Linked DNA regions of Homo sapiens: region 1 is linked to region 2. The links come from fine-mapping of genetic effects on gene expression. A gene starts in region 2. The other region holds a variant in brackets. All regions are shown on one strand. Distances are from middle to middle. Region 1 overlaps NPHP3 (nephrocystin 3). Region 2 holds the start of UBA5 (ubiquitin like modifier activating enzyme 5).

Region 1 (4,382 bases), 23 kb after region 2:
AAAGCAAGAGGAATGGCAAGGCTAAAGTAGCTCTTGAGAGCTCAAAAGAATCATGGAATTCTTTTTTTTTTTTTTTTTTTTTTTGAGACAGAGTCTCACCCTGTTGCCCAGGGTGGAATGAACTGGCACAATCTCAGCTCATAGCAACCTCCACTTGCTGAGTTCAAGCGATTCTCATGCCTCAGCCTCCTGAGTAGCTAGGATTACAGGCATGCGCCACCAGGTCCAGCTAATTTTTTTTTGTATTTTTAGTAGAGACAGGGTTTCACCATGTTGGCCAGGCTGGTCTCCAACTCCTGGCCTCAAGTGATCCTCCTGCATCACCCTCCCAAAGTGGTGGGATTACAGGCATGAGCCACCATGCCTGGCCAAGATTCATGGAATTTTTGAACTCCTTGTCTTAACTACTCTGCCAGCTCTTGTTGAACAAAGACCAATCCGCTCTTCATGATTTGCTCCTCATGTCTTCTTATAATTCTAATGTGTCTACATCCTTGGATACCATATAATAGGAAAATTCTTTTAAACAACTAAAACAGACATAATCACAATTCCAACTTAATGTAATCCAATACAACTTCATACAAATAGCAGTTAAATCACACGTAGTAAAATTTCGTACAACATTTTTTTAAAGTTTCAAATTCAAATGTTCCAAATGTTTAATTATTTTGTCTTAAGGTACATTTGCAAAGAATTCTAACTGCTGCTATTACCTTTGTCCTTGCTGAAGGAAAACATTAGGAGAATGAGCTGTTTTTAAGCTAAACGTGTCTCCACTTGATGAATGGCGTGAAGGAGCTTTTCCACCCAAGAGTGATGTTTCTGCTTCTTTTATTTCCATTGCCCTTTTGTATAATTCAGCAGCTTTTTCAAAATCTCCTCCTTCATAGCTTTGAGAGAGAAAACAAAAACTCTTAAAATGAGAATATAACCTCTTACCAATTCAAAATGACCTTATGGGATACAGAAAAAGAAGCTGTAAATATTTGCCCATTTCCCCTCTTTTTCCAGTGTATTCACTCAAGCAGACCAGTAAAACAACACCCAAACTCTTCTCCTTTCTACCAGTATCAGTATTTTTGTGTCTCATATGGATATCATTAAAACCATGTTGTAATAGAGGCAGTGAAATTGCTAAGCAAAGTTAGGTATTCTCTGCATCCTGAGAAAAATACAAATGAGCAAGCAAAAGTCAACATATACTTAATGGCAACTTCACTCTGGGGACAGCAAATTACCCATATTACTCCCAGAGCCAGATGTAGTATAAACCATCCTTCACTGTTTGCCATGATGCATACATATGCTCCTCTGCAAAATAGATCATGCAGGCTTCATTTCATTTCTGGATACTACTTCAGTACTTCTTGAAGTCAGTCAGCAAAAAACAACCCCTCCCCACTCTAAGAAAAAACATTCAGTAATACATATTTTGTGCTATTCTAAGACAAAGCTACTTCGAATAAAAGAGGCTGTATAAGGAAAGTGAAAAAAATTCTTACCTAAGCACAGCTAAATTTTTCAGTGTTTCTCCAACTCGAGGATGCATCCGACCCAGGCTATCTTCATAAATCTTTAATGCTCTTTCATATAATGGCAAAGCTTCAACGTGTTTTTTCTTATTAAAAAAAATGATAATGCTCATGCACACTGGGTTTCTGAAATTAATGTATTCTAGACTAAGCTAACCTACTTTGATTAGTACTTTAAAATGTTAATATCCTCCTAAAAGATGGGAATAAACAGATTAACTTATGAATAATCATAGGAGAAGCAGTATAATAGAAAGTCAGATACTTAAGATTTAGACCTGGCTTGGTAACCATTTGACCATAATCCAATACTGTAAGCACAAACCTGTTCCTTTATTGCCCAATGGCTCCCCCACCTGATTCTCACCCATCATAATCAAATGCCACAGGCTTAAATACTTAAATAAATATTATATGGAGGGATGTAGGGTATCTCCAGAATTTTAGAAACTAAGCCTATGCTCTGAACTAACAGTGTTTTACACTAAGAGGAAGGGACCTTCATACAAGTCTAACTTCAATAGTTTCTCAAGTACTAAAGGAAGTATTAGAAATATCCTTAAATTGTCTTTCATTCTATTTAGTGTTCCCTATCTAATTCATGTTTACCTATGTTTTATACCATAAAATCATTCACTGATACAACGTTAAAATATGGGAACTTACCATTTGGCTATAAAGAACAGCTAAGTTCACCAAGGCAGTAGCTACACTAGGGTGCTTTGGGCCAAAAGATTTCTGTCGAATTTCAACAGCCAATTCATACAAAGGTACAGCTTTGTCAAGTTTCCCCTAAAAAACAAGAGTTAAATCTAACAAAAATATAAGGCAATAAATACTATCTTATCAGAGCTTTTTCCATAAGTAAAATTTCATATTAAAGGGTAATTTTGAGGGAAAAAAATCTCAGAAGCATTTCCTATCAGCTTAATGATTAAGTTTATAGATAACTGAAAATTTAAAGCTACACTGTATAGAAAAGCATTTTTGATAATTCAGAAAACCCTTTAGGATCATCCACTATTACTGTTTCTAGTGTAGTAAAAACATATCAGCTGAAGTAGATTTACTATTGCACATAATTTGGAGACTGCATCAAAATAAAAAGCTCATTTCTTGCCAAATCCCTTCCAGATTTTTCTAACTACTTCACTTCACCTGAAAGTTGGGCAGAAATAGCAGCAATGTACCCTTCTTAC[TA/T]AAACAACTTTGGTGTCAGGATGACCAGTAATGGACCCACAAAGTCTAAAGACAGTCTACAAAGCTCTGTAACTATGCTAAATGAAAGCAGGCTTCCCTGGAATTTTTTCTTTTTTGAGAACAGCTATAAAAATCCCAAATATCACTCAGTATAGAACCCTATGGCAAACAATGGTTACATTTAATTACAGGCAAAGCCAAGAAAGAACGAAATAAAAATGTTCATTTAATCAACTACAAAGACATCTCCTGATTTCTTATGTTTATGTTGCTTTACACAGCAAACTTAATATTGGTGGAATTTTAGAACTTCTGAAATGTAAAATAAGTTTGAATTAGAATGCTAATAAATGCATTTGTACTTGGAATGTATTTAACAAAACAAACCCAGCATATTAATTTACTAGTATATTATTTCAGAATCAAGAATCAATGTAACCAGTTCAGTATAAAATAATTATTTTTAAATGTTCTGCTCAGTTACTTGTTAAAAGTTAAATCATGATTTTTAAAGCTCATATAAACTAACCTGTCCCTCATAAAGACAAATTATTTTGCTGATAGTAGTTATGGCTTAACTGATATGTTATAAAACATGTAAGAATGTCAAAGCTTACTTACCATTTTCTTATACAAGATGGCAAGATGCTTCACCGTATATGCCAAAGAAGGGTGATCAGGAGCTAATGCACGTCTCCGAATATCTAAAGCTCTTTCATAAAGTTCTTCTGCTTTATCATACTGTTTCTTTTCATTGCATAGAGCTGCCAGATTATTCAAAGACTGAGCACAGTCAGGGTGATCTGGTCCTAGAACTCGCTCCCTCATTTCTAAGGAACGCTTCAGAAACTGGTCAGCTGTTCTGTGAACACAATCCCAAAATGGCTTAAACTATCTATTTTCTAGAGTTTGGAATCCTGACCCCTAAATTAAGTGGAGAACTGACTCATCTTTATTCTTAGATTCTAGTTAAAATAAGAGATTCAGCTCAAAATCTTACTTTCCCCCTCTTCCCCACCCCTATCTCTTCCTGCCCTTTTCCTGACAGTTTGAGGGCCTAAAATGTGTGGATGATTGCCTCAATTCTCCACTTCTGAAAGAAAAACTGATAGATATTTTCCAAAACAAACTTTTATACTTTAAAAATTATTAGACCTAGGTCCAATAAAAGATTTTTGTATTCACTCTTCCTCCCTTTGGAGTTAGTACTAAATAATTTTTATTTCTTTATTTTGTTTTTTTGTATGTGTGCGTGTGTGTAACCTTGAACTCCTAGGCTCAAGTGATCCTCCCACCTTAGCCTCTCAAGTAGCTGGGTCTACAGGTGTGTACCACCATGTCTGGCTAATTTATTAATTTTTTTTGTAGAGACAGGGTCTCACTATGTTGCCCAGGCTGGTCTTGAATTCCTGGCTTCAAGTGATCCTAATGCCTCAGCCTCCTAAAGCTCTGGGATTACAGGCATGAGCTATCATGCCCAGCCAGTACTAAATAATTTTTAACAAAAGAATAAATCATTATTTTTTATATAAGTTTCTGTAAGTGGGCTACAGATTTATTATACTTTTCTGACATCCAAAGTTTCAAATTTGTTATATTTTTCTGATATATGAAGTCCAAAAATACTTTTTATAACATATAAATATA
Region 2 (4,345 bases):
TTTTTTTTTTGAGTCTCACTCTGTCACCTAGGCTGGAGCATGGTGGTGCAATCTTGGCTCACTGCAACCTCCCTCTCCTGGTTCAAGCGATTCTCCTGCCTCAGCATCCCAAGTAGCTGGGACTACAGGCACGTGCCACCACGCCCGGCTAATTTTTGTATCTTTAGTAGAGATGGGGGTTTCACCATGTTGGCCAGGCTGGTCTTGAACTCCTGACCTCAAGTGATCCACGTGCCTCGGCCTCCCAAAGTGCTGGGATTACAAGTGTGAGTCACTGCACCTGGCCAAAACACACATTTTCAAAATATAAAGATTGATTCTTTTGAGTTTCTGAGACTTCCTTCATGGCCTATGTGTTTTCAATTTTTATAAACTTTTTCATGTGTCCTAGAAATGAATGTGTGTTCTCTGTGGGATCCAGAGTTCCATATATATTTATTAAACCAAGCTTATACAACATTTCTGGAAGCAATTTTTATACCACAACTAATTTACAACTAATTTCATTTTTTGAACACGGTTATGGTTTAACATTCAGCTTGGTTCAGAATTAAGTATCTTTCAGTTATGTACCTCTTCAACACTCCTACAATATGAACGTTACTATCTCCTTTTTGCCAAAGCAGGACTAGATGTTCAAAGGGTAACTTGTCCAAATTCCACAGCAATTGAAATAGTTGAAATTTGAACTTTGATCTGTTTCAGTTTGTTACAACACAAGGCTTCTAGCCTAGAAATCTCAGCTATTCTTTATTCCACCTTTCCCTTCATCTTCCAATATCTATTGGGACATGGGACCTTTAAATTCTACACCCTAAAATGTTCCCTGATCCATCTCATTTATTATTATTTTCATTTTCACCAAAATCAGTAGTCAAAGAATATAAATGCTAGTGATAAAATACCACTAGCACACTATGTTGTTGCAATTTTTACGCCCTTTCACCTATATTACGGTATTTCATTTCATTAATAAGACTAATCAAAATAGGTATTACAACTTAGGAAACTAGTTCTCAGAGTGTTTATGTAACATATTTAAACTCCCAGACAGCAAGTGACAGATCCAGTTTTCTGAATGATAGGACTCTTTCTGTAGCCCTGTATTAGTAACAATGTTATTTTTAGAATAAAGTTTTAAGAATGTATTATCTATTGTAAAACATCAGACTAAAGCCAGATTCCCGGTGGGGAACGCTACTCTCAGGATCCTCTCACTCAGTTCCATTACCTCACTTCAAAAAACCTGAGGCCCAAAGTGGTGCTGTGACCTCCTAAGTGGAAAAGCTAGTACTCGAATTCGGATCCTCCATCTGGTGTCATTAACTCAGCCTCCCGGAATACGGCCAATCAAACGGAATTACACCAGCTTCTCAGAAAAAGATCTAATGGCTGTATCACAAAAGAAGGCATCTATTTCTCAGAATTTGTAGCCTTAATTGCCTTGGTGAATCCTCAAGGGACATAAATCCATCCTTTAACAAAGATTCCTTTGGATAGTAGAATGGTGAACGTTATTGCGCTTCCATTACCGCCCTCCAATTGGGAAGCCCCCAGCATCGAATTCGGAGGGCCGGCAATAGCAGCTCATGCCTGTAGGGTGCGTCCACTGACTGCAGGAAAAGCAATCAGGGTGGGAGAAACTTAGGAAACCACCCAGGGCCAAAGGAAGGAAAACTCAATGTACAAATTTTTTTCCGCTGGAGGCAAAGGCTGACATCCATACCTGTACTGGGCAATGGTCAGCGTAGCCTCACGTTCGGCCCCAAAGCCAGACAAGTGCTGGTTTAGGTAGGCCTCCAGGGACTTGCTGTCGAACTTGTGCTGGGGCAGCACTTCGGCCAAATCGGACTCGCCAGTAGCACCTGGCTTCATGATCACCCCCGCAGGCCACAGCAACGCGGCATCCACAGGTCTCGAGTGCCGAAGTCCTTCAGGATTGGGGCAACGTCCCCTCTAGAGCATGGGCCGAGGCCGGGGTGGGGTCTGGCTCCAGCCAACCGCACACAGCCTACGCGCCGTTGCTGAGCAACGCTTGCCCGCTGAATCCCGAGGTTTTAGCTCTAGTCAAGTGCCAAAAGAGCCCAATGTGTGTTCGGGTTTCAATTCTCCAGTCAGCGTCAGAGTTGGAGGCCTCAATTTTAAAGAAGGCAAAGCCATGGTCATCGTTGCGGGTAAGGAACAACGCAGAAGCCTCTTCCACCCCCAAATTTAATGCAACAGCAGGCGGAAGACCTGCAGGGTCCCGTTCAGAAAAAGGGCCGTCAGACTGTCGAGCCTAAGAATAAAAAGACCCTGTTTCTCTTAGATACCCGGTTAGCAAGGCAACATCGCTGGCCTCCTGCCCTGGACACTTATCACCCCGGTGCTGCTGCGGCCGGGTTTAGCCGGCCCAGCGAGGAAGGAAGCCGAAAGAGCCAGGTTTTTGATGAGGGGGAGCGATGTCTGCGACGCACCGGAAGCGGCTCCGAGGAAGGCCTGTGGGAGTCTCGGAGACGTGTCTGTCTGTGAGGCGCTGGGTGCACGTCCCCAGGGCTCTGGGCTAGGAAGGCAGCGGCGAGGTGCCTCCCCACGTACCCCTCGCGGGCCCAGCCGAGCAACGTGGGGCGAAGGCGGCGGCGAAGGCCCGGGCTGGGAGCGTTGGCGGCCGGAGTCCCAGCCATGGCGGAGTCTGTGGAGCGCCTGCAGCAGCGGGTCCAGGAGCTGGAGCGGGAACTTGCCCAGGAGAGGAGTCTGCAGGTCCCGAGGAGCGGCGACGGAGGGGGCGGCCGGGTCCGCATCGAGAAGATGAGCTCAGAGGTGGTGGATTCGAATCCCTACAGGTAACCTGCGTCGCCGGTCGGAGGCAGGCGCGGGGGACGAGGTCAGGCTCCGTGAGGTCAGAAGTGAGGCGCTTCCCACGTCCCGCTCATGGGGACGCCCGCCACCCTTTTCTTGGTCTGCGAATCCTGTTCCCAAATGGGCAAGGCCACATCTTAGTACTGATCGGAAGATATTCTTTCTCTTTTTTAAAAACCTCCAGTGAGTCAGCCATATGGTGCTGCTCCTGTGCCTGCTGAGGACGTGTGTCCAGTTTCCTATCACCCTTGCCTCTTAATTAGTCCGCCTCGCTGTGTATAAGACTGATAGTAAGAACTTTCAGAAGATGAGATCAAATATTAAACCTGCTAAGGTAAACTTTGAGTTTCATTAAAGGCTTATCAATGCATCTTAAATGGGGTCGGGGCGGGGGAGAGCGGGGTTAGCTCTATTCTGAGATATTCGGGTGCTCCTTAACATCTCAAACCATTCGACATTACCAAGACTGCCCAGGCCTCTCTTTTCTTCTTTCCTAACAAAGCTTATCAATTCAGCAGATGGAATATAGTGCAATGGTTAAGGGTAAGGACTCTACCGCCAGACTGATTGCAATTCAAATCTAACTACTCTCTTCGTAACTGCCTAACCTTTGGCAAGTTGTGAAACTTTCCGCTTCAGCTTCTCACCTGTACAATGAAGATAATAGTAATATCTATCTCTGTCATAGTTGTGGGGATTGAAAAAATCAGTATGTATAAAGGTCTTAGAGTAGCGCTTGTACATGGCAAGCCTTATACAAGATTTTATTGCTAGGTGCATTTAGTAGCAAGCAGTTATTGAGCTTTCACTGTGTAAGCACTTTACATGCATTGTCTCCTCCCACCAAAACCCTATGAGATTGCTACTATTTTACCCCCATTATATAAGTGAGAAAATTGAGGCTTAGAGAGCCACCTCAGGTTCATGCCTTGGTAGTAAATAATAAGGCCTGTCTTGCATTAGATTTGTCTTAATGTAAAATTCTCATGAACCGTCTCCCCAGTAAAAACAATTAAGTCGTGTAGCTAAAAATTGTATAGTGTTAAAGTAGATAAGGAAGATTTTATTGTTGCTTTTTTCCTTTAAAGAGCATAACAGTTTTGATTTTTAAAAAAGGTTTTAGTTTGTGATATATAAAGCCGCAGTAGAAGTCTTAGGGTGCACTGTTTTAACTGTGTTGCCAAATATGAACGGTTAATGGTCCAGAATTTTTAGAGATTAAATAAGCATGAACTGACATCTCTAATCAGAATAAGTGGAAACTATTTGACATTTTTAAAACATTTTAAAATTTTACAAATGAAGACTTTGAAATTTTCCCTCCAGAATGAAAAGCAGAGGAATATGGGTCATGAATTTAAGTTGTCTTTCAGACATTATTTAATATGAGATGATCCCTTGACATTGTAATTATAACAAAACTTTCAGAACTCAAGTCTAAATATGTAGTATTTTCTATCTGATTTGCACCATTGACTTTATTAAAATTGCTATACAGGAGATGGCA

Evidence for each region. PIP is the estimated chance that this variant, and not a neighbour inherited with it, causes the effect.
Region 1: its variant is the best candidate, but not a certain one, in a credible set for the expression of UBA5 in skeletal muscle (GTEx, PIP 0.62).

Annotation. Positions count from the first base shown.
Region 1 is chr3:132,681,198-132,685,579 of GRCh38, forward strand. NPHP3 (nephrocystin 3) reads right to left here. Exons shown (of 27, transcript NM_153240.5): 24 at 3,357-3,597; 25 at 2,202-2,327; 26 at 1,506-1,621; 27 at 1-893. The coding sequence ends at 713. It overlaps NPHP3-ACAD11 (NPHP3-ACAD11 readthrough (NMD candidate)), which reads right to left. Exons shown (of 45, transcript NR_037804.1): 23 at 3,357-3,597; 24 at 2,202-2,327; 25 at 1,506-1,621; 26 at 717-893. Among named protein-coding and RNA genes, the nearest start is that of UBA5, 23 kb to the left of the region's middle. The variant TA/T (reference allele first, on the strand shown) is at 2,735.
Region 2 is chr3:132,657,877-132,662,221 of GRCh38, forward strand. It overlaps UBA5 (ubiquitin like modifier activating enzyme 5), which reads left to right and starts at 2,453. Exons shown (of 12, transcript NM_024818.6): 1 at 2,453-2,822. The coding sequence starts at 2,662. It overlaps ACAD11 (acyl-CoA dehydrogenase family member 11), which reads right to left and starts at 1,933. Exons shown (of 20, transcript NM_032169.5): 1 at 1,727-1,933. The coding sequence starts at 1,875. The region is part of intron 26 of NPHP3-ACAD11 (NPHP3-ACAD11 readthrough (NMD candidate)); the gene reads right to left. RefSeq lists enhancers at 2,235-2,773, 2,309-2,398, 2,769-3,048.